Homo sapiens: one gene and its partner. The protein of the gene in region 1 interacts with the protein of each later gene in a pairwise test. Each region holds a gene or a part of one and is shown on either strand. Other genes may lie near its edges. The genes, in order: PPT1 and GPR75-ASB3.

Evidence for each region.
Region 2: the proteins of PPT1 (region 1) and GPR75-ASB3 interact in binary tests that used the Homo sapiens proteins (3 or more experiments, as listed by UniProt).

What each region holds. Positions count from the first base shown.
Region 1 is NC_000001.11:40,064,696-40,080,287, reverse strand, and holds the end of PPT1 (palmitoyl-protein thioesterase 1 isoform 1 precursor), read left to right. Parts: intron 1-1,629; coding exon 1,630-1,728; intron 1,729-3,374; coding exon 3,375-3,446; intron 3,447-6,104; coding exon 6,105-6,227; 3' UTR 6,228-7,576; downstream 7,577-15,592. Other genes in the region: CAP1 (adenylyl cyclase-associated protein 1), read right to left, coding at 8,755-8,838, 9,309-9,452, 9,776-9,858, 10,006-10,129, 10,414-10,598, 12,571-12,748, 13,968-14,073. UniProt on the Homo sapiens protein: Has thioesterase activity against fatty acid thioesters with 14 -18 carbons, including palmitoyl-CoA, S-palmitoyl-N-acetylcysteamine, and palmitoylated proteins. In contrast to PPT2, PPT1 can hydrolyze palmitoylated proteins and palmitoylcysteine.
Region 2 is NC_000002.12:53,705,728-53,721,319, reverse strand, and holds part of GPR75-ASB3 (GPR75-ASB3 protein), read left to right. Parts: intron 1-4,576; coding exon 4,577-4,754; intron 4,755-6,738; coding exon 6,739-6,936; intron 6,937-15,592. Other genes in the region: ASB3 (ankyrin repeat and SOCS box protein 3), read left to right, coding at 4,577-4,754, 6,739-6,936. UniProt on the Homo sapiens protein: Probable substrate-recognition component of a SCF-like ECS (Elongin-Cullin-SOCS-box protein) E3 ubiquitin-protein ligase complex which mediates the ubiquitination and subsequent proteasomal degradation of target proteins. Recognizes TNFRSF1B.

The DNA of each region.
Region 1 (15,592 bases):
GAAAGAGAAGTTCTGTTTTTTTTGGGAGGCAGGGCCTTTGAGATTCAGTTCCCTTTAGGGAGGTTGAAATTCATTTGCCTTTCTTCCCTTAAGTTCTTTCCCTCTCCTAGTGTTGAAACACACAGGATAAGCTCGGCAGGTTGCTGACTGGGCGAGGTGGAAATTCACAGCTGCTGTCTTAATGAGGGAAGCTTTCCTGATGGATCAGTCTGGGGGTGGATTTTTCTCTAGAGATTTACCTAAAAGAGAGATACAGTAGGCACTGAGTATGTCCCAGACACAAACATGGTTTGGTAGGTTCTGGTAAACTAGATGGCTCAGTTTATATTTGACTCATCTGGAGAGTCTTTTGGTTTTTTGTTTTGAAACAGTTTGAAGGGAAAAACAAACCAAACAAAAAACAACACAGAATAGTATATAGCAGAACGACCCAGAATTTGCAGTTTCTTATTTTGTCTTGGCTTTCTCTGACTAGAAGCCTCTCACCTATGTGATGGACACCTATGGAGTGTGGTGTAAACTCATAGTTGTACCTGTATGCCATGCTCAGTGGCATGTCAGTCAGATAGGATGGTAAGAAAAGCCTATAGAAGGCCGGGCGTGGTGGCTCACGCCTGTAATCCCAGCACTTTGGGAGGCCGAGGTGGGCAGATCACTTGAGGTCAGGAGTTCGAGACCAGCCTGGCCAGCATAGTGAAACCCTGTCTCTACTAAAAATACAAAATTAGCTGGATGTGGTGGCGATCACCTGTAATCCCAGCTACTCTGGAGGCTGAGGCAGGAGAATCGCTTGAACCTGGGAGGCAGAGGTTACAGTGAGCTGAGATGGTGCCACTGCACTCTGGCCTCGGTGACAGAGCGAGACTCCATCTCAAAAAAAAAAAAAAAAAAAAAAGGAAAAGAAAAGGCTGTGTAAGCAATCCCGTGACTGGGTATATACCCAAAGGAAAACAAATTGTCCTGCCAAAAAGACACTTGCACTCGTGTTTATTGCAGCACTGTTCACCATAGCAAAGACATGAAATCAACCTAGGTGCCCATCAGCGGTAGACTGGATAGAGAAAATGTGGTACATATACACCATGGAATATTACACAGTCATAAAAAAGAATGAAATCCTGTTCTTTGCAGCAACATGGATGCAGCTGGAGGCCGTTATCCTAAGCAAATGAACACAGAAACAGAAGACCAAATATCACATGTTCTCACTTATAAGTGGGAGCTAAACATTGGGTACACGTGAATATAAAGATGGGAACAATAGACACTGGAGACTCCAAAAGCTGGGAGGGAGAGGCTAGGGCTGAAAAACTTCCTGTTGGGCACTGTGTTCACTATCTGGGTGAAAGGATCAACAGAACCCCAAACCTCAGCATCACACAATATACCCTTATAACAAAACTACACATGTACCCCCCTGAATCTAAAATAAAATATTTTGTTTTTTAGAAAAAAAGAAAAAAAAAAGCTGTACAGGTATATCCTGGTCAGGAAGCTGGAAAACAGCCCATACCCATGGGGAAGAAACACAGTGGCACAGGGTCAGGGAGACCAGAAAACAGGAAGGCTTTACTCCCTCTGCTGGTGTCTGATGGTAATGACCTTAGGTGTTGCTGGCCTTTCTTTCAGGGTATCAATGAGTCCTACAAGAAAAACCTGATGGCCCTGAAGAAGTTTGTGATGGTGAAATTCCTCAATGATTCCATTGTGGACCCTGTAGATTCGGAGGTGAGACACTACTTAGGCCACATGCCAGGAGAGTAAATGGCATTAAAATAGGGCTGCTGGCCGGGCACGGTGGCTCATGCCTGTAATCCCAGCACTCTGGGAGGCCAAGGCGGGTGGATCACCTGAGGTCAGGAGTTCAAGACCAGCCTGGCCAACTTGGTGAAACCCCATCGCTACTCAAAATACAAAAAGAAATTAGCCGGGTATGGTGACAGCCATCTGTAATCCCAGCTGCTTGGGAAGCTGAGGCAGGAGAATTACTTGAACCCAGGAGGCAGAGCTTGCAGTGAGCCAAGATCGTGCCACTGCACCCCAGCCTGGGTGACAGAGCGAGACTCTGTCTCAAAAAGAACATAAAATGAAATTGAAATGAAATGAAAAAATACAGCTGCCTGCTGGGGAAAAAACCTTCAGTCCCTTCCACCAACTTTTGTATAAAACAGTTCTTCACCTGAGGTCCATAAATGGGACACTGAAGATTGTAATCAATCCCCCAACCCCAAAATTCTATGCAAAATTATGTAATTACATTCTCTGGGGAAGGATCTATAATTTTAATCCATTTTCCAGAGATCAGAGACCCAAAAAATGTTCAGAATCACTAGCCCAAAATATATAAATTCCTAAGCTTGGCCTCCAAGGTCTGCCTTGATCTGGCTTCACCCCATTTTCCAGCCTAATCTGCCTTGTCTGCACGCTTCATACACTCTTGATCAAGCCATATTGTACTACTTGTGCTTTTTCTCTCGTATGCCTTGGTTCATATATTTCTGTCTCTAGAATGCCCTTCCTTGGCTTCTCCACCTGACAATTTCTATTCGTCTGTCAAGGCAAGGATGCCATCCCCATTCCAAGCAGAATGTGATCGCTTTTTTAGAATCATCAGCCTCTGTTAAAACACTCATCACGTTATGTCACACCACCAGGGATTGGCCGATTGTGGCCCACAGGCCCAGTCCATCCTGCTACCCGTTTTGGTGCTACCCACGAGTAACACCAAACACTAACATAAAAGAATGTTTTTAACATTTTTTAATGGTTGGGGGAAAGAATTGGACATATAAAGATTATGTAAAATTTATTTAGACATATCAAGTATTTGGACATATAAAGATTATGTAAAATTTAAATTTCAGTGTCCTTATTGGAACAGTTTTAGTTACTTTTTACATACTGTCTGTGGCTGCATTTGTTACAGTGGCAGCAATGAGTAGTTACAACCATATGGCCCTTAAAGCCTAAAATATTTTGTATCTGGCCTTTACAAAAACGTTTGCTGACCTCTGTACTCAACAGTGAATTGTTTCCGTGCCTTGCAAGACTGGGAGCTTTTTGGAAACAGATTATGTATTCATCCTTGAATGTCTAGAGCTCAGCACAGGAATTTTTCACATTTATTGCTTAATAATTTTAGGAAGCAGAAATTCTGGGGAAGTGGAAAGCGGCCTCTCAGAAAGATTAACTCATCCCTCGGGCTCCACCCTTAAGAAGAGATGACTCAGACGCACCCTATCCATTTTTCCTTCTTCCTACAGCTTTATGATGTTCACTTTGTTGGCAGTTTTAGCTTCTAACCAGTCTCAAATTATTTTGGCAGTATGTGCTGTGTGTCATATCTGAGCTTCTTTCCTTTGCTTCTTCTGCAGTGGTTTGGATTTTACAGAAGTGGCCAAGCCAAGGAAACCATTCCCTTACAGGAGACCTCCCTGTACACACAGGTAACTGGCAGGGAGTCTATCTTGGGAGGTTGGTGTTTTTTCAGCTCCCAGTTCCTGAAGCTGCTATGTTCTTTGGTGCTGGAGCCCTTTCCTTTACACCTCAGAGCACTAGGTACTCCTGAAACACCTGACTCATGTCCAATATGGGTGAAGCTTGTTAGGCTCTTGATTATGTGCTCTAGCTTATTAGGCACTGGGTTACAAAAATCCACTACATCCTGAAACCTTATGGTTTCCAAACAACAAGAGAAACCTCATGTCTGATTCCCTTCTTTTGATAAAAAGGTTTTAAAACTAGCTGCCTTGGCTGAGGTACAGTCTGCTACAAATCCAGGAAGCCTCCATGCATGATGAGGGGCATTCCTTTTTTTTTCTTTGAGACGGGGTCTCGCTCTGTCACCCAGGCTGGAGTGCAGTGGAGCAATCTTGGCTCACTGCAACCCCTGCCTCCCAGATTCAAGCAATTCTCCTGCCTCAGCCCCCTTAGTAGCTGGGATTACAGGTGTGTGCCATCACACCTGGCTAATTTTTGTATTTTTAGGAGAGATGGAGTTTCACCATGTTGGCCAGGCTGGTCTTGAACTCCTGACCTCAGGTGATCCACCCACCTCAGCCTCCCAAAGTGCTGGGATTACAGGCGTGAGCCAGTGCGCCTGGCCAAGGGACATTACTTTTAAACATTAATAGATGTGAAATCCTGTTTCTAAATTACGCACTGACAAGGGAGGCTCCTGCAGGAGGTTGAGTGGGACTAGAGTTTTGAATTTTGTTTAGCAGTAGGTCCTGTATCTTAAGCAGAAGTTGCAGTAATTTGCCACCTCCAGTTCTGGGGCCTTCTACACTTTAAGGATTTTTTTTTTTTTTTTTTTTTTTTTTTTTTTTTGAGACAGTCTTGCTTTGTCACCCAGGCTGGAGTGCAATGGTGTGATCTCAGCTCACTGCAGCCTCCACCTCCTGGGTTCAAGCGATTATCCTGCCTCAGCCTCACTAGTAGCTGGGATTACAGGCACACGCCACCATGCCTAATACTTTGTTTTGTTAGTAGAGACGGGGTTTCACCATGTTGGCCAGGCTGGTCTTCAACTCCTGACCTCAGGTGATCCACCTGCCTCAGCCTTCAAGAGTGCTGGGATTACAGGTGTGAGCCACCACGCCCAGCCCTAAGGATTTTATATTGGAGACAGACTCTCCAAAATGCTAAGTACTACATCTGAACCAATCACCGTCTACTAGAATTCCTCCATGTTATTTCAGAGGTCATTTGTCTCCTCTTGGCTTGGCTTTTCTTTTGCACTGGGTGCCTCAACTTGGGTGGTGAGGTAAAAAGGGAAGCTAGAATCTGATTTGAGAAAAAAAAAAAAAAAGGCTTGAGAAATTACAGCTAAGAACTTCCTTACTGTGAAAACTCAAAATGATGTTGGCCACGGCAGAAGCACCATTCTGGCACTGTCGTAACTGCTTATCTTCCCAACCAGAGGTTGTTCTCCAGCATCTAGGCTATGGGTAATGACATTTTCAACTCCAGAATATGAAAGTGTCCAGGGTTTGTTACCTAACGGTTGGATATGGTTTTTCTGTTTTGTTCTTTTGAGACAGTTTTGCTCATTGCCCAGGCTGGAGTGCAATGGCATGATCTCAGCTCACTGCAACCTCCGCCTCCCGGGTTCAAGCGAATTCTCCTGTCTCAGCCTCCCAAGTAGCTAGGATTACAGGTGCCCGCCACCATGCCCAGCTAATTTTTGTATTTTTAGTAGAGACAAAGTGTCATCATATTGGTCAGGCTGGTCTTGAACTCCTGACCACAGGTGATCCGCCTGCCTTGGCCATCCAAAGTGCTGGGATTATAGGCGTGAGCCACCGCGCCTGTCCTGGGTTGGATGTTTTTTAAGTTACCTAGCTAATGTTCTGTCTTTGGCTCAGTCCCACTTACCTATGGCATTCTGAGGCAGTGTCGTCTATGGCTTGCCCACCTATAGGTAGTCCTCTGACTCTGAGCTTTTCAAAAATCAGAATCTAGAACACTGTATAGAGCAATCTCAATTGCATATCTATTTTTAATACTTAGAAAAAACTGGCCGGGTGTGGTGGCTCACGCCTGTAATCCCAGCACTTTGGGAGGCCGAGGCACGTGGATCACCTGAGGTCAGGAGATCAAGACCATCCTAGCTAACACAGTGAAACCCCATCTCTACTAAAAATACAAGAAATTACCCAGGCATGGTGGCATGCGCCTGTAATTCCAGCTACTCATGAGGCAGAGGCAGGAGAATCGCTTGAGCCAGAGAAGTGGAGGTTGCAGTGAGCCGAGATCGCACCACTGCACTCCAGCCTAAGCAACCGAGCAAGACTCCGTCTTGAAAGAAAGAAAGAGAAAGAGAGACAGAGAGAGAGAGAGGAAGAAGAAGAAGAAGCGGGGGGGACAGGAGGAGGGGGAGGAGAGAAGAAAGAAAAGAAAGGAAGAAAGAGAAAGAAAGAAAAAGAAAAAAGAGAAAGAAAAAGAAGTAGGAGATATTCTTTTTGGCATTTTTGAAAATACACCTCAATTTTAATACTCAGGACAAACTGCATTTTGAAAATATATCTCAAGTTAACGTACTTACCATTTTACTCCAAAACTTCATTAAGCTTTTTAATTAATTATGGCCTTTCCTTCTGCAGGACCGCCTGGGGCTAAAGGAAATGGACAATGCAGGACAGCTAGTGTTTCTGGCTACAGAAGGGGACCATCTTCAGTTGTCTGAAGAATGGTTTTATGCCCACATCATACCATTCCTTGGATGAAACCCGTATAGTTCACAATAGAGCTCAGGGAGCCCCTAACTCTTCCAAACCACATGGGAGACAGTTTCCTTCATGCCCAAGCCTGAGCTCAGATCCAGCTTGCAACTAATCCTTCTATCATCTAACATGCCCTACTTGGAAAGATCTAAGATCTGAATCTTATCCTTTGCCATCTTCTGTTACCATATGGTGTTGAATGCAAGTTTAATTACCATGGAGATTGTTTTACAAACTTTTGATGTGGTCAAGTTCAGTTTTAGAAAAGGGAGTCTGTTCCAGATCAGTGCCAGAACTGTGCCCAGGCCCAAAGGAGACAACTAACTAAAGTAGTGAGATAGATTCTAAGGGCAAACATTTTTCCAAGTCTTGCCATATTTCAAGCAAAGAGGTGCCCAGGCCTGAGGTACTCACATAAATGCTTTGTTTTGCTGGTGATTTAACCAGTGCTTGGAAAAATCTTGCTTGGCTATTTCTGCATCATTTCTTAAGGCTGCCTTCCTCTCTCAGTACGTTGCCCTCTGTGCTATCATCTTATCATCAATTATTAGACAAATCCCACTGGCCTACAGTCTTGCTTCTGCAGCACCCACTTTGTCTCCTCAGGTAGTGATGAATTAGTTGCTGTCACAAAAGGAGGGAAGTAGCACCCAAATTAAGTTGCTTAAGAGAGGAAATGTACATCTTGTATAACTTAGGGAGCGAAGAAAATGTAGGCGCGAAAGTGAAAAGTGAGGCAGCTAGTTCTTCCTATTCCATTCTCGACCAACCTGCCCTTTCTTAATATGACTAGTGGTCTTGATGCTAGAGTCAACTTACTCTGTTGCTGGCTTTAGCAGAGAATAGGAGGAACCATATGAAAAAGATCAGGCTTTCTGACTTCCATCCCCAAAACACATTTACCAGCATACTCCAAACTGTTTCTGATGTGTTCCATGAGAAAAGGATTGTTTGCTCAAAAAGCTTGGAAAATACTACACACTCCCTTTCTCCTTCTGGAGATCAACCCACATTAGAGTGTCTAAGGACTCCTGAGAATTCCTGTTACAGTAAACAAAACTAACGTAATCTACCATTTCCTACACTATTTGAGCATGGAAATCATAGTCCCCACTCTGTGAAAACTTAACGCTTTTTGGAAGACATTTCTGTAGCATGTCAGTTTGGAGAAATGATGAGCTACGCCTTGATGAAAGAACCGTGTTGGTGCTGCTAAGTTTAGCCATTATGGTTTTTCCTTTCTCTCTCTTAAGCCTTATTCTTCAACTAAAAGATGAGGATTAAGAGCAAGAAGTTGGGGGGGATGTGAAAATAATTTTATGAGGTTGTCTAAAATAAAGAGTAGTTTCTTATCCTTGGTGTTTTCAGTATTTTTTGCATTTCTGTACAGCCAATATCACAGGTAAACAACTAAGCAAGTTTGGTATTAACTTTATTCTATTTTCTGTATAACTTTAAGTACATAAAGGTTTATTTCCACAGGCCTCAGGAAATGGGTAGAAATCACAGGACAATCTCTCTTCCCACCAAAAAAAAGTTGCATATTTTGGTAAGTGTTTGTCCTAGAGGGAAAAACAACTGAAATTTACATTAGCAGTGCTGTGCAAGATTCTTACATAATTCAAGACCTAAAACCAGCCTGCAGTGGAGGTTTCAGTCCTCTGTTCAGGTGCTTAGACAGAAGCCATAAGCTGATGAGCATGACAGGGAAAAGGAGGCAGTGAAGACAGGTGACAGGCACCTGGCAGGGAAGAAGGATTCAGGAATGCCAGACTCCTTGAAATCATGTGGGTTTTTTTTTTTTTTTTTTTCCTTTTAAAGTCATCTCTATAGGAAGGTGCTGGGCAGGGATCCCAGAGAAAGAAAGGGTCCAAGACTCCATTAACTGCCCTGGATGAAGGGCACTGCTACAGCAGCTAGTACCAGAGACTCTCCTATCTCACGGTTGAGGCAGACCCAGGATAGAATAGAGAATAAAAGGAATGCTTATAGGAAACAATTTTGTATGGAATGCTAGATGGCCAAGCCTCAGCCTTTGGTCCAGTGCAACCCTTGCCTCGCTTGTCAACAGTGAAAAATTAGTTTGGTTAGAAGAACCATCTGGAAACACACCAGCTTCTGCTACCTTCATGCTCATTGTTAAAAAAAGATTAACCAGTGTGAACATTCTGATCTGTTAATTCCAGGGACTGTTTTCTTTCCAATGGACTGTTTGTTGGTAGAATAACCCCCAAAAGCTCAAAGCTAAAATGCATCATCAGTCCTAGTCGGCAGTTCCTTAAGAATGGACTGGCGGCGTGGTTGAGCTGATATGGAAAAGCTGCACCTTCCTGCAGAAGATCAACTGACCTGCTATCCCACCCCAAATTTCAGCCTGAGGTATATTTCAGTGAAGGCAGGTAGCTGTGCTTCTCAGAGCAGAGAAGCAGTTTTAAGAGCAAAAAGGTAGAGGAAATCTAGAAAAGAACCGTCTTGATACAGATTTATCCCATGGTGTGAAGGGAGGGCAAAGAACCCAGTGGCACTTCGCTTATCCAGCAATTTCTGTCACTGTGGTGACCAACTTCTGCCCGTTCCATAGGGTCTTGAACTGCTCAGGAACTGGGAATTCATTCTGCAAATAAAGAAGAGACAGCAGGTTTAAATCTGAGCTAAAGAACAGCTGGGGCTAAATCTCACACATTTCTCCCAATGCTTGCTTCCACTTAACCCCAGGAGCACGGTACAATGTAGCAAGAGACAAACCCACAGAGCCATGCTATGTTCTAGTGTTCAGCGATCTTGGACAGACTATTAAGTCTATGGGGTGTAAATAACAGTACATATGGCTTTATAGCACCAGCCTGACAAGGTGCCATGGCTCATCCCCATTATTTTTTGCTACCTTGAGCTCCACTTAGGCAGAAAGCACCTACCTTTGGGGCTCCACTACATGGGACTACCTCATTTCTGTGTACTTTTGGTGTGCATTATTGGGTTTTTACCTGCTCAGTGCAGAATGTTCATAAAATAGCTTTCTTCAATGCCAGAAATCTTCAGTCCCTTCTGTTTTTAACATCATACTAAAGAGATCAAGAAACTTACAAAGTCACCGCCTTCTGTAGGAATGAGGACATTCATCTCGGAAGATTTGGCACTGACTATTTCACAATCCAGGGAATTCTTGCTCAGGTAAGCATGGCAGCCATCTGTTTTGTTGATGGATATGGTTGGCACTTTACCCATTACCTGCAGAGTAAACAAAGAGAACTGAGTCCCAGTGGTTGGGAAGGACAACAGTAAGTCGCAGGAAAAGGTTTCCTGTTTCACGTGACTCAGCAACTACATGAAAAGCTCACAGATGCGCAAGACACTGGATACTCGGGTGGGTTGGGATGGGTCCTGAAAAGAACTTGCTTGAAGAGCCAACCCTTCTTCTGCCACGTCCAAAGCAGCTCAGCTTACAGACTTTGTAGAATCAGATTCCCACCAAAGCAACATCTGTGGGTCTACCATGTCTCTTTGAATTAATTCCTCAGGGACAAAAAGAAGGAGCCAAAATATCGAGTTACCTGAACTTTGACATCCTTACTGTTGATTATCTCCACAATGCCCACCACGTCATCGAATACCAGGCCAAGTTTCTTACAGTTATCTAGGAGAAGAAAGGGAGTGTGTCAACGTGTAACTTTAAAGGAAAGTAATATACATTTAGGAATCTTTAAGGATAGGGTAGGTAAAATGGTATTAGCCTTCTCGGGCTCTGGGACGGGGCTTGCGTGGGACAGCGACAAAGACTCACCTACTGTAATGGAGTTAATTTTGCCCTTGATTTGCAATGTCGTGTTGACACACTTGTATATGTAAGCCACCTGTTTCAGCTCTGTGTCCTCAATCACCAGGTTGGAAACATTTTCCTGATTTTCCTGTTAGAGAGAGATCCCAGGATTCTCATCACAAAGCACACACCGAACAAAAAATAACCAGGCTATCCCAAACTTTTTGTTCTTGCAATTGAAGCCAGAACTCTGCCCTCATCTAGCTAAGCTCCATTTAACCTCCTGTTCCTACTCCTTTTCCCCGGGAGGCGGAGGTTGCGGTAAGCCGAAATCGCGCCACTGCACTCCAGCCTGGGCGACAAAGTGAAACTCCATCTCAAAAAAATAAAATAATAAAAATACCTGCCCCTGTCTAGGTATTTTTAACTCACCACTCTCCACTTCTTGCCCTCCAGTTCAAGTACAGCTGGCTCCTTCTTTGTGGCTCGTTTGGGGGATGGGCTGGTTTGGGGTTTAGGTGCAGAGAATGGTTTGGGGCCACTGCGTACTGGACCACTCTGAGCCTTCAGGGCAGGGTTCTTGTGAGTCTTCATGTCATCAGATACATGTTTCAGGGCTGTAAGAACAACAGCTACCTTGTTCCTGTCCTTCATACCAGACCTTTGAGCTGCTATCGTCATGTTAAACATCCTTAACAGAAAATTCAAAGCCAAAACCAGAGCCTTTGAGATGTTCTCTTGCAAGCAGTTTTGGAAAAGTACTTTTATCATTTCTCTTCTCCCCAAGATTAAATTATATGGTTCCATTAACAACAACATGGAATGTGTGTATATTGTGGGTGAGGATAAGGATATGTAAATCCTTATCCTCTATGTCTAGAAAGACATATCAAATGTATGTGCACAAATATATAATTTTTAAAGCAATAAAGAAAAATGAGTGGTAGTAAAGAAAATTTGGTAAAAGGAAAAGAAAAAAATACCCTCACTCCCCACAGCTAACCCTACTTCCCCCACCTCCTCAGTCAGTGTTGGCATTTGCAACTCTACAATATTGTTTTCTACATATATTTGGTTTTGTTGGTTATAATCATACAGATTGTTAACAAATTTAGTTCAACTATTGACACTTAAAAACTTTCTCATGTTAACCTGTAGTTTAATATCTTTCTAGGCCAGGCGCTGTGGCTCATGCCTGTAATCCCACACTCTGGGAGGCCAAGGCAGGCGGATCACCTGAAGTTAGGAGTTCAAAACCAGCCTGGCTACCATGGTGTATTTTTAGTCTCTACTAAAAGTACAAAAAAATTAGCCGGGTGTGGTGGCAGGTGCTGTAGTCCCAGCTATTTAGGAGGCTGAGGCAGGAGAACTGCTTGAACCTGGGAGGCAGAGATTGCAGTGAGCCAAGATCACGCCACTGCACTCCAGCCTGAGCAACAAAGTGAGACTCCCATCTCAAAAAAAATAAAATAAAATAAAAAATAAAAGTAAAAATATATTTCTTTTATGTTTTAAGGGAAAAATAATTCATCATCTCCCACAGCAGGCTGACACACGCCTCGCTTTGAACATGGCCAGATCTATGTTAACTGTATAACAAATACTGAATGGCCTTTTTATCTCCACCATTCCTTGTGGTTGTAATTTACATACTAGATTTTTTTTTTCTTAAACATTACATGGTTCACTGTAGAAAAACATGTAATGGTGGCACAACATTTCATCAAGAGGCCGGGCGTGGTGGCTCACACCTGTAATCCCAGCACTTTGGGAGGCCGAGGTGGGCAGATCACCTGAGGTCAGGAGTTTGAGACCAGGCTGACCAACATGGAGAAACCCCATCTCTACTAAAAATACAAAAAAAAAAAATTAGCCAGGCATGGTGACGCATGGCTGTAATCCCAGGTACTCGGGAGGCTGAGGCAGGAGAATTGCTTGAACCTGGGAGGTGGAGGTTGCGGTGAGCCGAGATCGCGCCATTGCACTCCAGGCTGGGAAACGAGCAAAACTCCGTCTCAAAAAAAATAAAAAAATAAAAAACATTTCATCAAGAGGACATGTGGTAGTTAGCCATTTCTCTTACAGTTGGATTTAGGTTGTTACACCATTTTTAGCTACTATGATCATAGATTCCTAGAAGTGGCTGGACAACTCAGACTTCCACCAGCTGTGTTAAGGGTATCTACTTTATACCAACATTAGGTCACTCTCATGCAAATTTTCCATGTAACCAGTATGCATCTTCTGAGGAAGTTAACTCCCTAACACAATGCCTTCCCAGAGGCCATGTGGTGCCACGGAAAAAGCTCTGGGGAAAACCGCCAGCTCTGTGCCTTGGCACAAGAGGGTCCTCTATATATGCTACCTAATATTAAGTCACTTTCCCATGGGGCAGATGGCTTCCTCCAACTGTGATCATCATTTTCAATTTCCATTTAAGCCAGCTTTGCCGTCCCTTAAAGGAACAGGACACACCAAACGAGTCTCCACCACACAAGCCAGGGTTGTAGTTTACAGACGGTTCTGGTTGGTGGGGTCTGGCCCACACAACTTGTTGTACCTACTGTTCGTGTCCAAGTGCTCACTCACCATGTGTAATGCTCTCCCCCTGATTAATCTGCGCGAACAGTGATGAGCGGGAAGCAGACTCATATGAGCATGAAATGGTAGAGACTGGGGGAGGAGGGGGGCATGGTGGAGGGGGAGGAGGACATGATCCGGCAGAGGGTCCAGATGGCAGTCCGCTCAGTTCTTTTGCCACAGGCCCCTGGAACAATAAGTGCAGGTAACATCATCATCCTCTCTGCTCCCCTCTGTACCATTCCCAGTAGTGCCCTACATGGGCCAGTGCACATGGGGTCCCCACCACAGCCTTTGAGGCAATGATTAATGTGTCCTACCCATACCCAACTTGGCTTTATGCCTTCTCACCCTTTCCCAAGGATCCAGCTCTCAGTTCTATTTCTTGACCATCACATTTTGCCTTTGAACTCACCTGATTCCAGCTCTAAAAACTATTTCCACAAATCTACTTGACATCTTCCTTAGTGTGTTACCAGTACCTCTGATTCAACAGATTCAAAACTGATTTCATCATTTCCTGCCGCTCCTCTCCCTGTACAATCATCCCCTTGTCCCTATTTCAGTGAAAGATGTTACTATCCAAGACTGACTATTCAATCTTCTTTGAGGATTCCAACTTCTTCGACCTTATCAAATCTCTATTATCTTGGTGCTATCTCCTGCAAATGTTTTTCTACTATCCCCCAAACACCATGACCACTTTCATAATCTGAGCATGAGTCCTTATCCCTAACCTATACACTGAGACTCTTTTAAAGACAAATTGAATCATTATCACTCCCTTGCTCAAATACCTCATCCCAAAGTCTCAGCCTACCTTCCTTTCCAGCCTTTTCTCCTAAAATTCTGATCATTTCCCCTTATTGAAGCCAGAGATGACCAATCTCTACATTTACTCTGCATGTATTTTGTTTAAGCTGTGCCTTTTGTAGTATCCCACTTCTCACTGCCCTATACTACTTTCAAGTCTCACAGAAGAGTATATACCTTCAAAGTACAATCTCTTCTAGTGAGAAGCACTCTTCTCTTCCTCATACTCTAGTCTGTATCTTTATTATAGCATTTGGCTTGGTGATTTGTATTGGGGTTTTGCATTCTTATTTTTAAGCTCCTTAAAGGCTGGGATAGTGTAACTCATTTGTGTGTGTCTCCTGCTCCAGCACCAATCACTGTCCCTAACATATTTATTGAAATTGAATACCACTGAATATTCCTTCTCCTCTGATCCTTGCTTCCTCTACTCTTTTTACCCTTTCTTTCTCCTCCTTTTCTTCCTCCCTTCCACTGAAAAAACTAGCATTCCCTCACAGACTTTGGTAGTGCTGAAGTCTAAGAAACCTGTGGACCCCATGCTGGAGAGAGAAAGTGGGAGGGAGGGAGGGAGGGAGGAAGGATTCACTAACCGTTTTGCTCCAGGCCAGTCCGGTGGTATGGAACTCCTTAATGTAAGCCTGCAGCTCTGTCCATATACTTAAATAAGCTTTGACCCAGTCTACATGCTTCTTATCCCTGGGAGGATTAAAGAAGAACTTGTCACAGGTGATCCGGGTACATAACAGTGGTGACTCCAGAACCCTTCTTTCCTATGGGCTCACATTCTCCTACCCGTGGTGTTTCTTAGGCTCCGCTCAATGGCAGCTTTTCTATCATCACCAGCTTCTATGTATATACAACCTAGTCTATTACCCTAATCAGACCAAACTCCACTAAGATAGAGACTCTGGATTCTATCTCTATCTCTCATAGCAATGTTTCTCAAACTGTTTTAAGTACCAAAACTTTTTTTTTTCTTTTGACCACTTGCTGCTTATTGAAACTTTTTTCAAAGTAGACCTTAAACACAATCTAATATGTAAAACTGATAAAAGCAGACATTCTGTGCATAAAACCATGGTAGAGAGGAGAGCTCTTAAGTATCACTGTGGAACTCTAAAGACTAAGAAACTTAACTGCCTTATGAGACAATGCCTTATGTCAAAATATGCCCACCCTGACCAAAAGCAAACTTAAAAACTTTCCCTTAGGGGGAAACAATCAGCCTTAAATTATAGAAATAGCATTGTGCCTACGGTTCAAGTCCCCTCTCTTCTTATGTATTAACTGGGAAGGTTATTTAGCCTAAGACCTAGTTTCCTCAACTGTAAAGTGATGGGATAATGGTGGGATATATCAAAACACTGTCATGCTTAATTCCATGTTGCTAGAAGGATAAGGAAGTGCCTGTTGTTCTGGGACACATTTCACTCACAGGAAGGTGTAGTTTTCCTTAAAAAGAGTAGTTAATAAATGTTTGTTGATTGATGAAGGATGGAAGAAAGGAAAGGCTTGTGTAGATATGCAACTTAATAAATTTTGCCTGCAATCATTCCAGCTCAAAACCAGCAATGGAGAAGTCAGAACTGGTAGACGTATGTGGTTAGACATGCAATGACTGCCCTACGTAATACCTGCATTGGCTAGGCAGCCTTACTCTCACTTTAACTGACTTCATGAAAAATTTCTATTAAGTCCTATTGAACCCTTTGCCATTGGGCCAGTAACAAATTCTCAACAAAGGAACAAAATCTTATATAAAGGGCATTAGTCCATGTTACTGCCAGCAAAACTTCCTAAACCCAGAAGGGTAAGGATCAGAAGACTAAAAGGGCCTCTACCAAAAAAGGAGAGAAAGCAGAAGTGGAAGCAGAAGTATTTCCTGCTTGCAAATGCAGCTGTGAGACAATATCTGTAAAGCTCTCCAGAAAGCAGCCCTGAGATAAAACCAGCACAGTGGCTAAGGGCAGCCCTCAGTAACTCCAAAGTGCTACTCCAGCAAGTAACCAAATGGGTTTATCCTTTACCCCTTGAGAAAAAGCTGAACTTGGCTGGGCACAGTGGCTCACACCTGTAATCCCAGCACTTTGGGGAGACCAAGGCAGGAGAATCATTAGAGACCAGCCTGGGAAACAGTGAGACCTCATCTCTACGAAAAAATTAGAAAATTAGCCAGGCATGGTGGAGCGTGCCTGAAGTCCCAGCTACTTGGAGG
Region 2 (15,592 bases), on another chromosome or scaffold:
GCCTCCCAAAATGCTAGGATTACAGGCGTGAACCACTGTGCCCAGCCAAGAGCAAGTTAATTTCTATGTAATTGTGTGGTTTTGGAAGATCTTCTTGGTATTGATTTCTATTTTTATTCTACTGTGGTCTGAGAGTATGGTTGGTATTAATTCAGTTTATTTATTTATTTATTTATTTATTTATTTATTTATTTATATTTCTGGAGACAGGGTCTTGCTCTGTACCCAGACTGGAGTGCAGTGGCATGATCTTGGCTCACTGCAACCTCCCCCTCCTGGTTCAAGCAATTCTCCTGCCTCAGCCTCCTGAGTACCTGGGATTACAGGCGCGCACCCCTGTGGCCAGCTAATTTTTTTGTATTTTTAGTAGAGATGGGGTTTCATCGTGTTGGCCAATTTGGTCTCAAACTCCTGACCTTCAAGTGATCTGCCCATCTCGGCCTCACAAGTGAATCAGTTTTTTAAATTTATTGAGATGTGCTTTTTGGCCGAGCATGTGGTCTGTCTTGGAGTATGTTATATGTGCTGTTGAGAAGAATATATATTCTGTGGTTGATGAGTGGAGTGTTCTTTAGATGTGTATTAGGTCCAATTGGTCAAATGTTGAATTTACACCCAGAATTTGTTTTTTAATTTTCTGCCTCAGTGATCTGTCTAATGCTGTCAATGGGATTTGACATCTCCCAACATTATTGCTATCTCTATAGATCTCTAAGAGCTTGTTTTATGAAACTGGATGCTTCAATGTTGGGTGTGTGTATATTTAGGATAGTTAAGTCTTCTCATTGAATTGAACCCTTTATCATTATGTAATTACCTTCTTTGTCCTTTTGTACTGTTGTTGGTTTTTTTATATATAATTTTTTCTTGAATAGAAATGGGGTCTCACTGTGTTGCTGTGAACCCCAAATATCTGAGAGAGATCTCAGTCAATTTAGGAAGTTTATTTTGCCAACATTAAGGGCATGTGCCTGTGACACAGCCTCAGGAGGTCCTGGCAACATATGCCCAAAGTGGTTGGGGCACAACTTGGTTTTATACGTTTTATACATGAGACATCAATCAACATATATAAGATATACATTGGTTCTGTCTGGAAAAGCGGGACAACTCAAAGTGGGGAGAGTATGTCCAGGTCATAGGTAGGTAGGAGACAAATGGTTGCCTTTTTTTTTTTTTTTGAGTTTCTGATTAGCCTTTCCAAAGGAGGCACTCAGATATGCACTTATCCCAGTGAGCAGAGGGATGACTTTGAGTTTGAGTTCTGTCTGTCCTTCGTCCACAGGGAAATTCCTTGTGAGGGAGGTACGTAACTTTTTCTAATCTTAGTAGCTATTTTTTAGGAATAGAATAGGAGGCAGGGTTGCGCTAAGCAGTTCCCAGCTTGACTTTTCCCTTTGGCTTAGTGATTGTGGGGGTCCCAAGATTTATTTTCCTTTCACATTGCCCTGGCTGGTCTTGAACTCCTGAGCTCAAGCGATCCTCCCCCCTTGTAAGAGTTAAAGAAAGAGGAAAGAAACACAAAAGATGGGTTGGCAGTTAAAGACAGGTTTACTTTAGATAAAACCTGAGAAGGGTTTCTGGCTGATTTCGATCAGGAGCACTTTCTCTTACAGGCTAAGTACATGAGTATATATTGGTTTTAGGGTGAGGGGGCTTATCACAAGCTTGGAGTGTTTATGTGTGGGGGAGAAGTTTATGGTGAGGTTGGAATGTCTCTGGGTGAAGGGGGGATTATCTTGGGGCTGACGTCTTTCTAGAAGGAAGGGAGTTATCTCGGGGCTGGCATCTTCCCAGCCAGAGCAGGGCAGCTAGCATGTCTCTGGTCGCAGAGGAGTTTGGCATGTTCCTGGTCGGAGATGCTTTTTTTGTTTATGATCATGCTGATCTTAGCCATTTAGGCTGATGCGCTTTGGATTTAGGAAGTTTTTGATTAAGGTGAATTGGAAAATAACAGTGCTTGTGCAAGATGGTGATACTCCTGCTCTGTCATACTTCGGCCTCTCAAAGCTCTGGGCTTATAGGCGTGAGCCACTGTGCCTGGCTCTGTTGTCTGATTTAAAGTCTGTTTTATCTGATATAAGAATATTGACCCCTGGTTGGGCGTGGTGGCTCACGCCTGTAATCCCAGCACTTTGGGAGGCCGAGGTGGGTGGATCACGAGGTCAAGAGATCAAGACCATCCTGGCCAACATGGTGAAACCCCGTCTCTATCTGCTAAAAATACAAAAATCAGCTGGGCGTGGTAGTGCATGCCTGTAGTCCCAGCTACTCGGGAGGCTGAGGCAGGAGAATTGCTTGAACCCAGGAGGCAGAGGTTGCAGTAAGCCGAGATCGCACCATTGCACTCCAGCCTGGCGACACGGCGAGACTCAGTCTCAAAAATAAAATAAAATAAAATAAAAAACTAGTGACCCCTGACCTTTTTTGTTTTCCATTTGGTTGATAAATCTTTTTTCAACCCTTTACTTTGAGCCTATGGGTGTTGTTACATGTGAGACGTGTCTCTTGAAGGCAGCAGATGGATGGGTCTTTTTTCTTTCTTTTTTTTTTTTTAATCCAAATTGCAGCTGTGTGCCTTTTAGGCAGGATGTTTCGTAAAAGGCGAAAGATTTGTATGATCTGAAGAGACCCTTTACATTCAAGGTTAATATTGATATGTGAGGTTTTGATCCTATTATTAAGTTGGTAGATGGTTGCTTTGCAGTTTCTATTGTATGATTGTATTATGGGGTCTTTGGGCTATGTACTTCAGTGTGTTTTTGTGGTATCAGTGTTGTTCTTTCATTTCCATGTTTAAAAGTCCCTTAAGGATCTCTGCTAAGACTGGTCTAGTGGTAACAAATTGTCTTATCGCTTGCTTGTCTGTAAAATATTTTATTTCTCCTTCGTTTGTGAAGCTTAGTTTGGTGGAATATGAAATTCTTGGTTGTAGTGTCCTCTCTTTAAGAATGCTGAAAATAGACCCCCAATCTCTCTTGCCTTGTAAGGTTTCTGCTGAGAAGTCCACTGTTCCTTTTGTATGTGATCTGACGTTTTTCTCTAGCTGCCTGTAAGATTTTTTCTTTAGTGTTAACCTTCAACAGTCTGGTGACTGTATGCCATGGTGATATTCACGTTCACAGAGAGTTCTCTGTATTGCTTCTATCTGGATGTCTTCCTCTCTGGCAAGATTAGGGAAATTTTCTTAAATTATGTCCTCAAATATGTTTTCCAGGTCATTTACTTTTTCTCCTTCTCTCTCAGGAATACCAATAATTCATAGATTTGGTTGCTTTACATTATCAAATATTTCTCAAAGCCTTTTTCATTAAAAATTTTTTATTTTTATTTTTATCTGACTGGGTTAGTTTGAAAGACTGATCTTCAAGCTCCAAAATTCTTCCTTCTGCTTGGCCTAGTCTATTAATAAAACTTGCAGTTATATTTTGAAATTCCTTAAGTGAGTTTTTCAATTCCAGAAGCTCTGATTGATTCCTTTTTAAGATGTTTATCTTAAGATGCCTTCATTTCCTGAATTGCTTTAGAAGTTTCTTTGTGTTTATTTTCAACCTTGTCTGGATCTTGTTGAGCTTCCTTGCAATCCTTGCTTTGAATTCTTTATCTGTCATTTCTGAGTTTCCATTTGGGTCAGGAACCATTGCGGGAACACGACTGTGATCCTTCAGTGGTGTCACTATATTTAGATTTTTCACAAATCCAAAATTCTTGGGGTAGTTCCTTTTCATCTGGAGATGTTCACACTTCTAATTTTTGTAATTATTTTCATGCAGGTGGGATTTTTTTCTTTTTCTTTCTTTCACTATAATATTATTGTTTTTCCCTTTCACATTTATGATTTTAAATATCAACTCAGAAACCTGTTGAAAGAGACCCTTTTTCTCTGATTGTAGGCATTATTTATCATGCAGTGGTTATGAAGAAAGAGATGTAATAGAGAGTATAGTCAATATTAGTTTTAAGGCGTGGCTCCCATATATGTCATATCTACTGATAATTTTTCATAAATCTTAGCCTGAATCAATTAGTGGCATAATTTGGATTTTATCTTTTTCAGCAGTTATCAGAAATATTATCCATGTTTGATAGTTTGCATTTTTCTTTTTAAATGTTTACTTATTGGGCCCCAGAATGCTTGTTGGAGGAGGGATTGGAATGAAATGTATCCTTCATTGAATAGGATTTTTGTTTTAGCTTAAAAATGAATTCTAAGATATGAATCACTTGTTTTCTTGCTGACGTAGAGGCAAGACCTTTTTATTTTTGATAGAGACAGGGTCTCACTATGTTGCCCAGGCTGGTCTCAAACACGTGGCCTCAAGCAATCCTCTGGCCACAGCTTCCTAAATTGCTGGGATTCCAGGCATGAGCTACCCTGTCAGTTTAGCGAAGACAATTTAAATGATTACCAAGAAGTTAGCAAAGTAAATATGTTTATATAACAACATCCAACATTCAGTGAAGAGGGAAAAGCTTACCGTGCTACGAAACCCTTTTATGGTAGTTCCTTTGAAATTTGTGTTGATTTTTTTAAGTATTAGGGTTATCTGTTAAATGTTTTATTTTGTACCCTTAGGTGCAAATGTCAATTGTCAAGCCTTGGACAAAGCTACACCCTTGTTCATTGCTGCTCAAGAGGGACACACAAAATGTGTGGAGCTTTTGCTCTCCAGTGGGGCAGATCCTGATCTTTACTGTAATGAGGACAGTTGGCAGTTACCTATTCATGCAGCTGCACAAATGGGCCATACAAAGTAAGTGTTAAAAACAGAAAATAAACATGGTCTCTTAATCAAAAGCTAATAAAGAATAAATCTGGGCTAGACCCTTCACCTCTAGGCAAAGTCTTTGATATTCTCTTCCCTACCAATCTGCTGGGTGAACAGATCTACCCCTAATCTGTCCTTCATGCTGTCTTTTGCTCCTACTATTCCTGCACTTTCATATTGTGAGGCAGAATTGCTACAGACTGGGTAGGCTCAGGGACTTTCTCGGGGTGTTGACTCTTCCCATTGATTTCTCTAGTTATGGCTGTATCCGCCGCCTCCTCCTCCCTAGTTTTATCCCAGGCATCTTTAAGCATCAATCTGATGAGGCCATCCATGTTACCTCTCTGACCCCAGAAAGCTTTTGAGTTTGTGATGCCTGTTGGAGTGTGTGCTAAGTAGTCCTCCCTGTCTTAAACCCTTTGACTGAACTTTTCTTGATCTAACCTCAAATTGGAGAGAGAGTAAATGGGGGTTCCAGGAATCTTAGAAGCTAGTAACTTGGTTATACCTGTGAGAATATGGCTACCTATCATAAATTGGCAGTCAATGATTTTTAGAAATATATGTGAGAATATGGCTACCTATCATAAATTGGCAGTCAATAATTTTTAGAAATACATGTTTAGAATCTTTAGAGCCATAATTCTATAATAGCACTTTTTATAGCTGCTATTAGTATTATTTAATTTAAAAAGTAATAGTAAAATATTCATTACTTAATTTAGTTTGTTTACATAGTAGGAAAACAGATTCTGCAATTTGGTCATTATGCCACTAGGTGACACAGTACTTTACTATTTCATTAATGATATTTGTAAGCATGTTTATGTCTTGTGGGAGAGTATAATTTTTCCCACCTACTTAAAAAAATTAAACACATTTATTAAAGTTAAGAGACATTAGACTATTTTAACAAAATACTTAGATTTAAAAATTTGATATTTTCCCCAATTCTTGATCATTTATTTAAACATAAGTGTTAGATATTGTACTCTGAACTTTAAATGGTACCAAAACTCTCCTGGGCATTTGTTCTCAATTTTGAGAATTCTCATTGTCACTGATGATTTTCTTTATAGCCTACTTCAAAGGTAACCCCTTTTGTGAGTGTAAGTTCTACTTAAATGTTATCTTAGACATACATTACATGAGGAAAAGTCACAAAGAGAAATGTAATACTATGAAAATACTTCAGAGTAGCCCTGTCTGTCTTTTCCCAGAAAGAAGGAATTTCCTGGCTTTAACTATACAGTTTTATTTTTAATTTTAGAAGGGTAGAATAGTCCTTTTTTCTTTCCAGTTGACTGCTAGAGGTAAGTTTACAAATAACCTAAGAACTTTTGTTTTAATTATTTTCTTAGAACTTTCTCTACCTAGGAGCCAGCTTCTTTATAAATCTGCCTCCATATTTAATGAGCTCACTTTTTTTTCAGATAATAGAATATTTTAGCACAAATTATAATTTCTTCCTGATGAAAACATTAGTCTTAATTTCATGCCAGTTATCATCTTTAAAAATTTTTACTAATTGGAAAAGAAAAACTAGTTGGTACTTTAAGAAGGAAAATAGTGCATTTTCTTGATGCCAGTTTATACTTAGTAGAATGATGTTTTAAATAATTTATTAAACCCTAAAATATCTAACATAAAATTTGAATTTTGGGGGTTAAGGTGGTGCTAGTAAGGTAATAAAATTAAAAGAGCACCTTTTCTGTTTACATATAGGAACATTAATTTTGTTTCAAATGTATTTAAAGACCTTTTTATTAAGCAATAATAAGTGTAACATTCTGGAGTAAATATATAGCATGTAATAGTTTAATGTTGTTGGTAGAAGGTACACCCTAGACAGAAATATTTCTTTAAATGAATCAGTTGGTAATTCTGAAAAAAATTGTGCTATAGAAATGTTGCCTACATTTATGCACATATACAAACACTAAATTCTCCTGAATTTGTGTATTTATAGAATCTTGGACTTGTTAATACCACTTACTAACCGGGCCTGTGACACTGGGCTAAACAAAGTAAGCCCTGTTTACTCAGCAGTGTTTGGGGGACATGAAGATTGCCTAGAAATATTACTCCGGAATGGCTACAGCCCAGACGCCCAGGCGTGCCTTGTTTTTGGATTCAGTTCTCCTGTGTGCATGGCTTTCCAAAAGGAGTATGTATATTTGCTATGTTTTTATTTTTTATTCTTTTTTGCTGTATGGAGATGTGTTTTGAAGTGACTTTCTTTCACGATGAAACTTAGTATCTCTGTTAGTGCTAAATTGCTATCTTGGAACACAAATAGGAAAAAAACTATGATGTTTCAGTCAAGCTGAAGCAGAAATGAGGTGATAATATCACATTGTTTTCCTTCCTTCTTTGGATCTGGATTATATTTTTAGTGTAGCAATCTTAGGGAATACGTACAATTTAAGTAGACGCAGAAATTTGCTGATATTTTTGGTCTTCAAAACAATTCAAGAATTAAAAATGGGGCTTTATCAAGTAAGGCAGTGACTGCTTCAGGTCATTTACCGTTTCAAATTTATAAGATATAAGCCTAAAAATTAAACTTTAGTTTTATAGATATTATTGTGTTTTTAATGTATTTGGTGGATAGCATTAAAAAAAATTTTTTTTTTTTGAGACAGGGTCTCACTCTGTGGCCCGGGCTGGAGTGCAGTGGCACCATCTTGACTCATTGCAACTTCTGCATCCCAGGCTCAGGTGATCCTCCCACCTCAGCCTCCAGAGTAGCTGGGTCTACAGGTGTACACCACCACTCCCAGCTAATGTTTTTATTTTTAGTAGAGATGGGGTTTCTCCATGTTGCCCAGGCTGGTCTTGAACTCCTGGGCTCAAGCAGTTCCCTTGCCTCGGCCTCCCAAAATGCTGGGATGTCAGGCATGAGCCACGATGCCTGGCTTTATATTATTTTTGGATGTGAGTCTAAATAATTAAGTTTTTAAACGCCCCCAAATTAATTATTTTTCTAATCTGTCATAATTCTGTGAAATAGACTAAGTGAAGAATTACTGCTGCCTTGTTAGTGTCTGGCCAGTAACTTTGTCTATAACACTCTTACAGTTTTAAAACACTAAGAATAAAGCTGTGTGTAAGAACAGCCATATTGAGTAATATCTGGTCATCCAATAATGGAATAAGTTATGAAGATAGATGCTATTGTGTTTAATGACACAGAAGAGGTTGCAGGCATACCTCAAATTGTATTGGCCTTCTTGAATTCACTATTATGAATCTCTATTTAATTTGAGTAGTTATCAAGAAATTATTTACTAAGCTTTTCAGCCTTTACTATCTCTTAACATTTGCCATGTAAAATTAGTAGTTCACTATAATTTGTTTCAAGTTTAAGCTTACACGTTTTAGTAGAGATAGGGTTTCACCAGCCTGGTCTCGAACTCCTGGCCTCAAGTGATCTGTCTGCCTCCAGCCTCCAAAAGTGATGGGATTATAGGTGTGAGCCACCCCATCCGGCCTCTTAAACTTATACATTTTAGTTTGAATATTTGGGTTTTGGTTAATCTGAGTATCTGGGGCCCACTTTATGTATAACTTTCATGATTTCATAGGATTTTCTTGTGTACCCCGTTAAGTTTTGTCTTTTTAAACAGAAGAGCCCTAATTACTTTAGTTGACCTTCAGTGAGGTTGCACTGATAACTTTTAGTTGCCTTTCTCTATCCCAAATCTTAAGTCCGTTACAGAACTGAACATTTCTTATTAGACCAGAATATAATGATTTTGGATTGCGCGCGCGCGCGCGCCTGTGTGTGTGTGTGTGTGTGTGTTCAATATGATGATGGTCTTTTTTGGCCTTCATCTTATCTTTTGGATGAACAATGTTTTTGGTCCTTCTGGTCACAGCAGCTAAGCTCACGCCTCATCACCTTATAAGTGTAGTTTGAATTAAGCCATATAATGTAGTACCCCTGTTAACTCTGAAACACCTTAAAATTAATGATATTCCTTGGGAGCTGGGCAGTATGTTTCATGCCTTCTGTAGATTCGGATAAATGAAATTAGGTGGGAAAGATCTTAAATAGGTTTCTGGATTTTCCAAGATTAGTTGAAATTTTAGGGGGCAGACCCTTTTTTCTCCTTTGATTTCTACAAAATCAGTCAGTAACACTAATTGACCATTTTGTTATGTAGAGAGCACTAAATAGATCCTGTTAAACTTACTGAGGAAGCTGAAACATACACACGATCCTTTAGGAATTTAAAACCTAATGGGAAAAACAGTATTTAGTGGCATTTACTTCACTATCTTCTGCTGTCTTTGGCAAAGAAGCGTTTTTAATGTATTTTTTTTTTTTTGTATTTTTTTATAGAGACTCATGGAAGGGAAGGTTCCTATTTTTTTCTGCTGTGTCTGGGATAACTGCAAATAGGAGCTATTATCTCATTCTTGAATAGTGATATAAATGATTTTTTTTCTTTTCCTTTCACAAGTACTCCAAAGTTGTATTTTTAAGGAACTCCACAGTTTGGTTTGCTTTTTATGTCTCAGTTACTCTGTAGAATTTTTTTCTGTGTAAACTTCAGTGATGCTAAGAAGTTCTTAACATGCAGTGGAGTAATTCCACTACAGCCTCTCTCTTTCTCTCTAATGACTACAAAAAACTGTGGTCAAAATTCAAAAAGAAACTACCTGAGGACTCTCAAAGGAACAAAAGCAGATAGATTATGAAAGAGAGTGGTAACTTGGTGAAGTGACCCACATGAAAACGAATTTTCCCATTTCTTTTTCCTTTTTTTTTTTGAGACTGTCTCGCTGTGTTGCCCAGACTGGAGTACAGTGGCGCGATCTGGGCTTACTGCAACCTCCATCTCCCGAGTTCAAGTGATTCTCTTGTCTCAGCCACCCAAGTAGCTGGGATTGTAGGCATGTGCCACCATGCTCAGCTACTTTTTGTATTTTAAAAGAGATGGGATTTCACCATGTTGGCCAGGGTGGTCTCAAACTTCTGACCTCAAGTGATCTGCCTGCCTCGGACTCCCAAAGTGCTGGCATGAGTCACCGCGCCTGGCCTTCTTTTTCTTCTGCTGTGTTGCCCTGAGGGCCAACCCTGATCTGGAGCTGAGTAGCACCAGTGGCACCAGCAGCTAATATCAGTCAGTAACATTAATTGACCAGTTGTTTAATATAGAGAGCACTAAATAGATCCTGTTAAACTTACTGAGGAAGCTGAAACATAGACACAATAGAAAGCCTGTTTTTCTGGTCAGAGGAATCAGGTAAATGGAACCCTGTGGGCCAGAGAATGGTAGGGAATCTTGGAGAAGAGAGAGCTTGGAGAAGCGGATACCCTAATTGTGCATATGAATTTGCATATTCCTGACTTACCCCAAGCTTTAAATGCACAAGATAGACCCAAATTGTTTTTTATTTTGTTTTGTTTTTGAGACAGGATCTCATTCTGTTGCCCACACAGAGTGCAGTGATATGATCATGACTCACTGCAGCCTCGACTTCCCTGGGCTCAGGCAATTATCCTGCCTCAGCCTCTTGAGTAGCTGGGACTACGGTTGTGCGCCACCATGCCTGGAATTTTTTTTTTTTGTATTTTTTGTAGAGACAGGGTTTGCCGTGTTGCCTAGGCTGGTCTTGAACTCCGAGCTCAGGTGATCTCCCTGCCTTGGCCTCTCAAAGTGCTGGGATTACAGGCGTGAGCCACAGCACCCAGCCAACCCAAAATGTTGAAAGTAAGATTTGAACTATCATCAGAGTCTCAGGCTAGACCCTGAGTGGCACATTCATGGGTCCAAGCTTAAAGCAGGAAAGTCAAGGCTTTTGAGAACTGAGCTGACGTTGGAACCACTGTATAAGGTAAAACAGAAATTGCAGTTTGAACCTAACTAGGTTATATGCTTGCTGAAATAAACAAACCAAAAAGCTAGTGTTCTTCAAAGGATTATAACAAGACCCAGGACTCAGAATTTATACAGCATAACATTCACAATGTCCAGGAGACAACCTAAAATTATTTGACATATGAAGAACTGATAAAACATTACTAAATCTCATGGGAAAAAGCAATTAATAGATGCCAGTCCTGAGATGGTCCAGATATTAGAAATATCAGATAATTGAAAGCAGCTCTTATAATGGTGCTTCATGAGGCTAACACACTGGAAAAAATGAAAAGGTAGAAATTCTCAGCTGAGTAGTAGAAACTATAAAAAAGACGGAAAAATACAATAATCTGCAATGAAAAATTTACTACATGGACTCCATAGCCAAATGAAAGATATAGGAAAGAGTAAATTAACTTGAAAGTAAACCATTAGAAATTATTAACAAAGGGGAAGACATGCTGTCTGGCAGCTGGAGCGTGCAGACTGGCGTGGCACAGCCATGCAGCTTCTGGAGTTTCTGTTGGTTAGAGATTCAGGAGTAGCTTGGTGGGCAGTTCAGGCTTGGAGGTTTCTCTTATAGTTGCATTAAATATCAGATGAAGCTACAGTCATTAGCAAGCTTGACAGGAGCCAGGGGATCAACTTCCACAGAGGCTCACTGACATGGATCACTCATATGGCTGGGTGTTGGCAGGAAACCTCGGTTTCTCTCTATAAAAGCCTCCCCACAGGACGGCTGCAGTATCCTCATGGCATGGTAGCTGATTCCCTCAGAGGAAGAGGTCTAAGAGAGAACAAGACGGAAGTCACAGTGACCTGGTTCATTGAAATTATGGCTGTCACCTCCGCAGATCACATACACAAGCCCTGATTCAATATGGAAAGACTGTACAAAAGCACAAATAGGAGGAGGAAAGGATGATTGGGGGCCATCTTGGAGGCTAGCTGTCTCACACATTATCTCTGAAATTGCTGTTTTTTAATTTTGAAATTTTCAAACATATGTAAATGTAAAGAAATTGGTACAGTGAACTCCCATAGACCCATCATTCATATTCAGTAATGATCAAGGAAATGCCATCATTTTATTTTGTACAAATATCCCTGAGAAACATGCTCTTTCCACCTCCAGCCTTCATCTAAACATCTTATACTAACTTTCTTTAGATTTCAGTGTTCCAGGCTCTCTCCTTCCCTCCTCTTTCTGGTATGTTTATGGGGTAGAGGCAAGACCAATGCAAAGAAAGAAGGCCCTTTATGCTGGGCATCTAGGCTTTTTCAGACATCCTCTGAAACCTAGGCAGAGTCTCCCAAACCTCAACTCTTAAATTCTGTGCACCCACAGGGTTAACACCATGACCATGTGGAAGCCACCATTGTGACTTGTACCCTCTGAAACAGTGGCCTGAGCTGTACCTGGGCCCCTTTGAGCCATAGCAGGAGTGGCTAGGATGCAGGGACTAGTGTCCCAAGGCTGTGGAGGACAGTGGGGCACTGGGCCTGGCCCATGAAACCATTCAGTCCTCCTAGGCCTCTGGGCCTGTGATGGGTAAGGCTGCTGGGAAGGTCTCTGAAATGCCTTTGAGGCCTTCCACCACCCCCTGGTGGTTTTGGCTATTAGCACTTGCCTCCTTTTTACTTAATGCAAATTTCTGAAGTCTGCTTGAATTCCTTCCCTGAAAATAGGCTTTTCTTTTCTACCATTTGCCAGGCTGCAAATTTTCCAAACTTTTATACTCTGCTTCTCCTTTAAATGTAAGTTCCAACATTAGGTCCTGTCTTTGCTCATGCATATGAGCATAGGCTCTTACAAGCAGACAGGCTGCTTTGCTGCTTAGAAGTTTCTTCCACCAGGTACCCTAAATCATCACTCTCAAGTTCAAAGTTCTACAGGTCCCCAGAGCAGGGGCACAGTGCATTCAGGTTCTTTGCTAAGGCATAACAAAAGTGACCTTTGCTCACTTCCCAGTAAGTTCTGCTTTTCCATCTGAGACCTTGTCAGCCCAGCCTTTACTTTTATTCACTATCAGCACTTTGGTGACAACCATTTAACCAGTCTTCAGGGAGTTCCAAACTTTCCCTCATCTTTCTGTCTTCTTCAGAGCCCTCCAAACTCTTCCACTCTCTGCCATTACCAAGTTCCCAAGTTGCTTCCACATTTTTAGGTATCTTTATAGCAATGCCCCACTCTTCAGTGCCAATTTTCTGTATTAGTTCGTTCTTGCATTGCTATAAAGAAATACCTGAGACTGGGTAATTTATAAAGAAAAAGGTTTAATTGGCCCATAGTTCCACAGGTTGTACAGGAACCATGATGTTGGTGTCTGCTCAGCTTTTGGAGACACTTCAGGAAACATAATCATGGCAGAAGGCGAAGTGAGAGCAGGCTGCTTCTTACATGGCAGGAGCAGGAGCAAGAGAGTGAGTGTGGGAGGTGCCACACACTTTTAAACAACTAGCTCTCACAAGAACTCCCTACTGTGAGGACACTACCGAGGGGGATGGTGCTAAACCATTTATGAGAAACCCATCCCCATGATCCAGTCACCTCCCACCAAGCCCCACCTTCAACACTGGGGATTACAATTCATCATGAGATTTGGGTGGGGACACAGATCCAAACCACATCAGTAGATCTAGGGTGGGGACTGATATTCTGCATTTCTTTCTTTTTCTTTTCTTTTCTTTCTTTCTTTCTTTTTTTTTTTTTTTTGAGACAGAGTCTGACTCTATCACCCAGGCTGGAGGGCAGTGACACCATCTCGGCTCACTGCAACCACCACCTCCCGAGTTTATGCAATTCTCGTGCGTCAGCCTCCTGAATAGCTGGGATTACAGGTATGTGACACCATACCCGGCTAATTTTTGTATTTTTAGTAGAGATGGGGTTTCACCATGTTGGCCAAGCTGGTCTATAACTCGTAAGCTCAAGTGATCTGCCCCCCTTCACCTCCCAAAAGTGTTGGGATTACAGGCGTGAGCCACTGTGCCCGGCATACTCTGCATTTCTTTCTTTTTTTTTTTTTTTGAGACGGAGTCTCGCTGTGTCGCCCAGGCTGGAGTGCAGTGGTGCGATCTCAGCTCACTGCAAGCTCTGCCTCCTGGGTTCATGCCATTCTCCACCTCAGCCTCCCGAGTAGCTGGGACTACAGGTGCCCGCCATCACGCGCAGATAATTTTGTTTTTGTATTTTTAGTAGAGATGGGGTTTCACCATGTTAGCTAGGATGGTCTCCAACTCCTGAGCTCCAGTGATCTGCCCGCCTCAGCCTCCCAAAAGTGCTGGGATTACAGGCGTGAGCCACCACACCTGGCCCATACTCTGCATTTCTAACAAGCTAACAAGATGGTGCCAATGCTGCTGATCCACAGACCACACTAAGTAGCAAGAGTCTAGAGCTGTGCTGCCCAAATTGGTAGCCACCAGCCACATGTGGCTATTTAAATTAATGAAAATTAAGTAGCGTTATAAATTACTTCTTCAGTTTCCCTAGCCACCCTTCAAATGCTCAAGAGTCATGTGTGGCTAGCTACCCTACCGAATAGCACATCATCACAGAAAAGTCCGCTGCATGGCAGTGGTATAGAGAATTGACCCATAGTAACTCTCCTACAGCTGATTTTTAGACCAGAACAATTATTTATTCACAGCAAAAGAAGAGCTGGGCAGGGTAAACAGCAACAGGTTACTTATAGTATTTATTTCCTCTTTCTGGAACGGACAACCCAGTGTTCCTAAAGACAATATGGAAGGTTGTTTTGTTAGCTCAACACTTGAGCAAAAGAGGTTGGATATGTTTACCAGATTGTGAGAATGGATGAATTGCTTTTCTTCACACTAGAAGTATATTTCTCTTAGTAACTAGTATTGGGCATAAGAATCAGGGCTGAGAATGCTGGGGGAAGACTTCCTATTAAGAAACTGCGTTTTGGCTGGGTGCAGTGGCTCATGCCTATAATCCCAGCACCTTGGGAGGGCAAGGTGGGCGGATCACGAGGTCAGGAGATTGAGACCATCCTGGCTAACATGCTGAAACCCCGTCTCTCCTAAAAATACAAAAAATTAGTCAGGCGTGGCGGCACGTGCCTATAGTCCCAACTACTCAGGAGGCTGAAGCGGTAGAATGGCGTGAACCGGGGAGGCAGAGCTTGCAGTGAGCCAAGATCACGCCACTGCACTCCACTCCATCCTGGGCAACATAGCAGATTCAAAAAACAAAAAAAAAAAGAAGCTGCCTTTTGACTCCTTTTTAAAGACATAATATTTTGTCTGTTTACATACCTGCTTCTTCATTAGAATGTAAGCTCCTTGAGAGCAAGGATTTGCCCTTGATCTAACTCCTATTAGGCATTAAAAATATATTTGTGAATTAATGAATCAATAATTATATCAGATTAGCATATTTATTATATGTTAGTCTTCCTCAATGCCTTGTGGAGGGATAAGGATGGAGCATGATTCTTGGGCTTGGATGAGTCACAGATGTATAATGGCTGTGTGACTTTGGGTATTTCACTTCATTCTGCTAAATCTCATTCCATTATCTTTAAAATAGGGATAGTAATAACACCTAAGCTTGCTTTAGAAAATTATTTTGAGGATCAAATGAGCTAACAGTTGTGAAAATGCTTTGTAATTTGTAATTATTGTCTTAAAAAAACCCTAGTTTTTTGGGTGAGAGAGTCTTTGGTCTCAATGTCAATATATGTACAGATCACCTTGCCCGGATGTGTGCCTTGTACTTGCATTCTAGGATATTGCCTGTTTGGAACATCTACTCATATTTTCATACTGTCCCTCTCTGGGCAACTAGCTTTTGTAATTTACAAATATTTACAAATGTTTAACAAATTTAAAGGTTAAAAACAAATTTAAAGAAATTATCCACACAGAAGTACAAAAGAGAAAAAAGATGGAAGAAAAAAACAAGAGCGTCAGGGAACGAAG